2 linked regions of the Homo sapiens genome follow. The protein of the gene in region 1 interacts with the protein of each later gene in a biochemical or structural test. Each region holds a gene or a part of one and is shown on either strand. Other genes may lie near its edges. The genes, in order: DRD2 and DISC1.

Region 1 (3,817 bases):
TGAGGATTGCCATGGGAAAAAGGACAGGGGCAATCCTGCAGGGGCTGCCATGGGTCCTGGGTCCCATGCCTCAGTGACATCCTTGCCTCCCTGGCAGGGTGACCCTGTGGTGTTTGCAGGAGTCTTCAGAGGGGGAAAGGGAGGGGCCAGTGAGATGGGTGGCTGATGCCTGGGAACTTGTCCGGCTTTACCCAGAGCCCTCTGCCTCTGGTGCAGGAGGCTGCCCGGCGAGCCCAGGAGCTGGAGATGGAGATGCTCTCCAGCACCAGCCCACCCGAGAGGACCCGGTACAGCCCCATCCCACCCAGCCACCACCAGCTGACTCTCCCCGACCCGTCCCACCATGGTCTCCACAGCACTCCCGACAGCCCCGCCAAACCAGAGAAGAATGGGCATGCCAAAGACCACCCCAAGATTGCCAAGATCTTTGAGATCCAGACCATGCCCAATGGCAAAACCCGGACCTCCCTCAAGACCATGAGCCGTAGGAAGCTCTCCCAGCAGAAGGAGAAGAAAGCCACTCAGATGCTCGCCATTGTTCTCGGTGAGTCGGCCCTGGCTGCTGGCCACAGCCCGGTCTGTGAAAGGTCCCATTCCCTGCCATGTCCTTCCTAACCATGGCTGCAGGATCATGGGGCTAGCATTTCCTCAGGCACAGGCCAAGCCCATTGACATACAGACAGCCCTATTAGGTAGATTCTGTAATTGTGCTCACTTTACAGATGGGCAAACAGAGTTTTAGAGTGGTTATAAAACCTGACCAAGAGGACCCATGGTTTGAACTCAGGCAGTCTGACTCCAGAGTCTGGAAATTTGACTAGTCTATTATGCTGGCACCAGAACCTCATGGGCCTATGTGCCCAGGAAAGTCACTTTCTCTCTCTAGGCTCCTCATCTGTAGAGTAGGTTACTTCTCAGGGCTGTCATGGCAATCAGTTGGTGAAAGCATTTTCTAAACTACAAAGCACTATCCATATGTAAGTGTCACTATTATGGTTTTTATTACTATTGCTCTTTTTGAGGAATTGGGAAATTCAGTTCACTTGCACTCAAACAAGACTCCATGGGACCAGAGCTGTGAAAAATAAATGAGATGTTGGGGAGTGGCCCCCAATCTAAATGAAAAGCATCCCTGTCCATAAAGCAGGATTTTTCAATAGAAGTCTAGAAAACCACATAGTAAAGGTCAAAACCCAAAAGGTGGACTGATATGGGTGGCTGGGAAAAGGAGGGTCCCCTGTGACTCTGTCTTCCAGGAAGCACCTGAATCCCCTTTGACTGCCGGATGATCCTGGGGCGTGAGTGGGGCAGCTGTTACCTCCCTTCTTTTATGAATGAGAGCACTTGATCCCATGGGACTACTCACGATCATGGGACTGGGATATGGTAGGCTAGGATTGGAGCCAGGCCCTCTGCTGCAGTCCATAGGGGCTCAGCTCTGTGGCCCTACTCTTCCCAGACACCATTCAGTCTCCAGGGATGCCTCCTGTGCCTGTAGGGCATTCCATGTACACATTGCTTCCAGGATAAATATCACACCTGTGCAGGAGGTCCTGGAAAAAGTGCACCTGAGTTAGGTGAGCAGAGCAGGTAGGTGGCTGCCCTGGGTGAGAGGGCATGGTTCAAGGCAGGGACTAGCAAGGGTGTACCCACCAAGACTGGGGAAATTGGGGGAAGGCTAGAGCGAGATCATCTGGGGACCTGGATAGACCGGAGTTCAGCTCTCAGCCTCGCTGCTCAAGAGTGAATGACCTTGGGTATATTGCAGAGCTGTTGTGAGTGTTTTTCTTATGTACCTTATGAGGATGCTATAAGAACTAAGTGGCATGGGTCTATAGCCCTCAAAGATGACCTGGAAGTAGAGTAGATATTTCCATTTCTACTGGCTAACCTGGGTCAGAATGGTAACCTTTTGGATTTATTGTTAAACCATGTACCCTTTTCTAGGAGGTGGGAAAGGGACAAATGAGGGAAGTGAGGCTGAAGGAGCTGAAGGGATACTTCACTGCAAATGGGTGTCAGAGGCAGGTCTAGGATCCAAGACCTGGACTCCTCCTACAGTGCTTCTGTGGCTACAGCCCACCGTCTTGGCATACGAGCCAGGGCGCACTGGGTGTGGGTGTTCCCAGCCGTGCCTCCCCGGCTCTGGGGACCAGCCTGACCATGCCCTCTCCCCCAGGCGTGTTCATCATCTGCTGGCTGCCCTTCTTCATCACACACATCCTGAACATACACTGTGACTGCAACATCCCGCCTGTCCTGTACAGCGCCTTCACGTGGCTGGGCTATGTCAACAGCGCCGTGAACCCCATCATCTACACCACCTTCAACATTGAGTTCCGCAAGGCCTTCCTGAAGATCCTCCACTGCTGACTCTGCTGCCTGCCCGCACAGCAGCCTGCTTCCCACCTCCCTGCCCAGGCCGGCCAGCCTCACCCTTGCGAACCGTGAGCAGGAAGGCCTGGGTGGATCGGCCTCCTCTTCACCCCGGCAGGCCCTGCAGTGTTCGCTTGGCTCCATGCTCCTCACTGCCCGCACACCCTCACTCTGCCAGGGCAGTGCTAGTGAGCTGGGCATGGTACCAGCCCTGGGGCTGGGCCCCCCAGCTCAGGGGCAGCTCATAGAGTCCCCCCTCCCACCTCCAGTCCCCCTATCCTTGGCACCAAAGATGCAGCCGCCTTCCTTGACCTTCCTCTGGGGCTCTAGGGTTGCTGGAGCCTGAGTCAGGGCCCAGAGGCTGAGTTTTCTCTTTGTGGGGCTTGGCGTGGAGCAGGCGGTGGGGAGAGATGGACAGTTCACACCCTGCAAGGCCCACAGGAGGCAAGCAAGCTCTCTTGCCGAGGAGCCAGGCAACTTCAGTCCTGGGAGACCCATGTAAATACCAGACTGCAGGTTGGACCCCAGAGATTCCCAAGCCAAAAACCTTAGCTCCCTCCCGCACCCCGATGTGGACCTCTACTTTCCAGGCTAGTCCGGACCCACCTCACCCCGTTACAGCTCCCCAAGTGGTTTCCACATGCTCTGAGAAGAGGAGCCCTCATCTTGAAGGGCCCAGGAGGGTCTATGGGGAGAGGAACTCCTTGGCCTAGCCCACCCTGCTGCCTTCTGACGGCCCTGCAATGTATCCCTTCTCACAGCACATGCTGGCCAGCCTGGGGCCTGGCAGGGAGGTCAGGCCCTGGAACTCTATCTGGGCCTGGGCTAGGGGACATCAGAGGTTCTTTGAGGGACTGCCTCTGCCACACTCTGACGCAAAACCACTTTCCTTTTCTATTCCTTCTGGCCTTTCCTCTCTCCTGTTTCCCTTCCCTTCCACTGCCTCTGCCTTAGAGGAGCCCACGGCTAAGAGGCTGCTGAAAACCATCTGGCCTGGCCTGGCCCTGCCCTGAGGAAGGAGGGGAAGCTGCAGCTTGGGAGAGCCCCTGGGGCCTAGACTCTGTAACATCACTATCCATGCACCAAACTAATAAAACTTTGACGAGTCACCTTCCAGGACCCCTGGGTAGAAGGCAGCAGTGCCACTTCTGTGCTTGGCATTCAAGTATAGCAAGACCCCTGTGTCTGCAGGGTCTAACCCAAGGGAAGCCAGGTTGCCCCCACTGCTCCACCTCCCCTGTTGCAGCTCCTGCTTCCTCTGAAGGACTCATCCTTTGCCCTCTTACCCACCAGGGCAGAGAAGGCTCTGTGGAAAAGGTGGCCTTGGATGCACTGGCATTGCCTGTGTCTGCCTATGTCCCTTGCCCTGTCTTCTGTCCCATGTCAGGATCCCCTTCCTCTAGGGCAGGCTGGGAGAAGCAGGGAAGGCCCTGACCACTGC
Region 2 (3,817 bases), on another chromosome or scaffold:
CTTTTTCTTTTTTTAAAATCTAAAAATTTTGATTGGAGAAGGATTAGAGACTAAATTGTTGATATTTGAATTTTATTGTGGTTTTGGTTAAAGTTTGATGCAGGACCTTCAGAGCAAAGAGAGGGTACAATGGTGACCTTTAAACAATATATATATTTTTTGAGACGGAGTCTCGTTCTGTCGCCAGGCTGGAGTGCAGTGGCACGATCTCGGCTCACTGCAACCTCTGCCTCCTGGGTTCAAGCGATTCTCCTGCCTCAGCCTCTCGAGTAGTGGGATTACAGGCGCCCACCACCACATCCAGCTAATTTTTGTATTTTTAATACAGACAGGGTTTCACCATGTTGATCAGCATGGTCTCGATCTCCTGACCTTGTAATCTGCCCGCCTCAGCCTCCCAAAGTGCTGGGATTACAGGCATGAGCCACTGCGCCGGGCCCTTTAAACAAGATTTAAAGACCAGCACACAAAGTTTCTGAGTACAAAAAAAGGTAATATTTTAGGTTAGGGTCATTAGACCAGAATTAGAATCATTCTTTTTTTTTCTTTTTTTAATTAAAAAAGATGGGGTCTCCTTATTTTGGCCAGATTGACCTTGAGCCTCAAGCAACTTCTGCCTCGACCTCCCAAAGTACCAGGATTACAGATGTGAACCATTGCACCTGGCCAGAATCATTCTTTTGATAATAATGATGGTAATTGAGTTTATATGCTGTGTTCTCATGAATCCAAGCAGAGCCCACTGTTTCCAGAGATTCCCTTGGCAGCCACCCTGGGTTGAGGAGGGTCCCCTCCTGGCACAGCTGGAACCACCGGTGAAGAGCCATTTTTCAGTCAGCACCGTTTAGTAATATAAGACTTTTAGCCTCGAGGAGTCTTCCGTTGTTAGTTCCTAACTTTAATGACTTTGTGGTAAAAATTCCTTAGCGAATGACTTCTGTGCAACAATCATGTAATTTTTAAAATTCCAGATGCTTTAGCCGTTCAGAATCCATTTTTTCTTTCAAAACCAGAGTTCACCAGCTGTTTCTCTTGAGCGAAGACTTTGCAATGAGCTTTCAAATGTTCACACCAAGTAGAAGCAGGAAGGGAGAACTGTGGCTGGGCAATGAATGAAATACTGACATTTAGCTGTAGAAGGTAGGCAGGGGCTCACATGGTGTGCACAGCCCCTTATATGACTACTGGTCCTGTATCTGCTTCCTTTCCCTGCCCCATTTCCCCTTTGGCTTTTTGTCATGACTCAGAAATGGATGCTAGACATTATGGGGCTCCCTCCAGTCACTCGGGTCACTCGTCACAGACTTATAAACAGAATCACAGAACTTATTGTCAGATGAAGCTTCAAAACACCAGTTGGCTAAACTCCTTGTGTTCTGGCAGGTAAGATGTCGGCATCCTTATTTAACAAATGATGCTACTGAGAACTATGTATGCAGAGACATAGTCTCAAAATAAGTGCAGTCATGCCTCGCATAATGACGTTTTGTCAATGTCACATATGTGAGAGTGGTCCCATAAGATTATACTGGGCTGTCAATTTCCTAATGCCTAGTATTTACTATACATTTTAATGTTATTTTGTGTACTTCTACTTAGTAAAAAAAAGTTAACTGTAAACCCGCCTCAGGCAGGTCCTTCAGGAGGTATCAGAAGAAGGCATTGTTGTCATAGGAGATGATGGCTCCATGCGTGTTTTTGCCTTGAAGGCCTTCCAACGGGACAAGGTGTGGAGGTGGAAGGCAGGGATAGTGATGATCCTGACCCTGGGTAGGCCCAGGCTAGTGTGTGTGTTTGTGTCTTAGTTTTTAACAAAAAGTTTGAAAAGTAAAAAAATAAAAATTAAAAATAGGAGCTTATAGGATAATAAGGATATAAAGAAAAAATATTTTTGTACAGCTGCACAATGTATTTGTGTTTTAAGCTGTGTTTTTATAAAAAAGTCAAAAAATTAAAAAAATTTAAAAATTATTATATATAAAGTAAAAAAAGTTATGGTACGCTAAAGATAATTTATTGTTGAGAAAAAAATTTAAATGAATTTAGTATAGCCTAAGTGTACAGCGTTTATAAATACAGTAGCATGAAATTATGTCCTCAACCCTCACGTGCACTCACCACTCACTCACTGACTCACCCAGAGCAACTTCCAGTCCTGCAAGCTCCATGCATGATAAGCCTCCTATAGAGGTGTACCATTTTTCATCTTTTATAGTGTATTTTTACTGTACCTTGTCTATGTTTAGATATGTTTAGATGGAAAAGTACTTACCATTGTGTTACGGCTGCCTACAGTATTCAGTACAGTAACATGCTGCACAGGTTTGTAGCCTAGGAACAGTAGCTATACAATATAGCTTAGGTGTGTCATAGCCTATACCATCTAGGTTTTTGTGAGTACACTCTATGGTGTTTGCATGACAAAATGACCTAATGACACATTTCTCAGAAAGTGTCCCTGTCAATAAGTGATGCATGACTGTGATTGAAATAAGTAGCCCCACATTATTTTTCTCATGTCAACTTCAGGTTAATTTTCCAGCCACGTGGCCTTGTGCTTGCTCATCATAAAAAAATGTGGATAAAATTCTACCTGTTAAGCCACAACATTTGCCTGTCATGGGTGGACATTTACCGTTTATTTTCAGAGTTCAAAGTTTGAACTCTCAGAGAAATGCAAATAAGACAGTAAACTCCTCGAGGTGAGGAATGGCAATCTCTGAAGATAAATCATATATTTATTGTACAGTATTGAATGTTGTAAGTGGCAGTAGAGATCATGTAATCTGGCCTTCTTCTTTTACAGGTGAGAAAAGTGAGAAACAGCAGCAGAGTGATTGTTAGAACCTGGCTCCTCTTCTTTTACTTAGAACTGTTTTCATTAAGTTGTGTTTCATTTCATAGTTCTGTATAATTCATCCCTGCTTAAGATACATTAAATGAATTGAACTGAATCCCTTTTTTTTGAGCTATGATGGCTCTTAAAAACTTAGATTTTCAGCCAGGCGCAGTGGCTCATGCCTGTAATTCCAGCAGTTTGGGAGGCCAAGGTGGGCAGATGACCTGAGGTCAGGAGTTCGAGACCATCCTGGCCAACATGGCAGAAACCCATCTCTACTTAAAATACAAAAATCAGCTGAGCATGGTGGCGTGTGCCTGTAATCCCAGCTACTTGGGAGGCTGAGGCTGGAGAATCGCTTGAACCTGGGAGGCAGAGGTTGCAGTGAGCCAAGATCATGTCACTGCACTCCAGCCTGGGCTACAGAGAGAGACTCCGTCAAAAAAACAAACAAACAAAAAACCACGTAGATTTTCAAGTAATTACTATTGTTACACTAAATGTCAATGGATCCTTAAGAATCTATTTGTTCATGAATTCATTATTTATTCATTCAACGTTTATTGAGTGGCTACTTGGTTCAGAATTAGAATTAGCATGACAGCCACACATTAGAAAGGTATCACTTTTTGACTAAATTAAAAACTTGCTAAAAATAGTTATCCATTGATGGAATAGGCTACCCCGAAAGGCAGAGAGCATTTTGTCATTGGAAGTATGTAGGGCAGTGTGGATGACTCTAGGGTGACTGTCATGAGGGTTCTGCACTGGGGAGGGGGCTGCGTTGGATGATGAATGGGAACCCTTCCAGTGCTAAGATGCTGTGATCGTTGTCCTGCAGGATTGGGATTGTGCAGGATTTGAGCTACTGTGTAAATTTCCTATTCCCTGCTCATTGGGCTTCCACATTTTGCTTCCTTCCCTTGCCCAGGTGGTTCCATTTCAGGAAGCCTAGATAGCTTCTTTGCAGTCATCTGC

The links.
Region 2: the proteins of DRD2 (region 1) and DISC1 interact in a biophysical measurement, tested with the Homo sapiens proteins (one study listed by IntAct).

The regions. Positions count from the first base shown.
Region 1 is NC_000011.10:113,409,283-113,413,099, reverse strand, and holds the end of DRD2 (D(2) dopamine receptor), read left to right. Parts: intron 1-216; coding exon 217-544; intron 545-2,179; coding exon 2,180-2,373; 3' UTR 2,374-3,495; downstream 3,496-3,817. UniProt on the Homo sapiens protein: Dopamine receptor whose activity is mediated by G proteins which inhibit adenylyl cyclase. Positively regulates postnatal regression of retinal hyaloid vessels via suppression of VEGFR2/KDR activity, downstream of OPN5.
Region 2 is NC_000001.11:231,629,790-231,633,606, forward strand, and holds part of DISC1 (disrupted in schizophrenia 1 protein), read left to right. Parts: intron 1-3,817. UniProt on the Homo sapiens protein: Involved in the regulation of multiple aspects of embryonic and adult neurogenesis. Required for neural progenitor proliferation in the ventrical/subventrical zone during embryonic brain development and in the adult dentate gyrus of the hippocampus.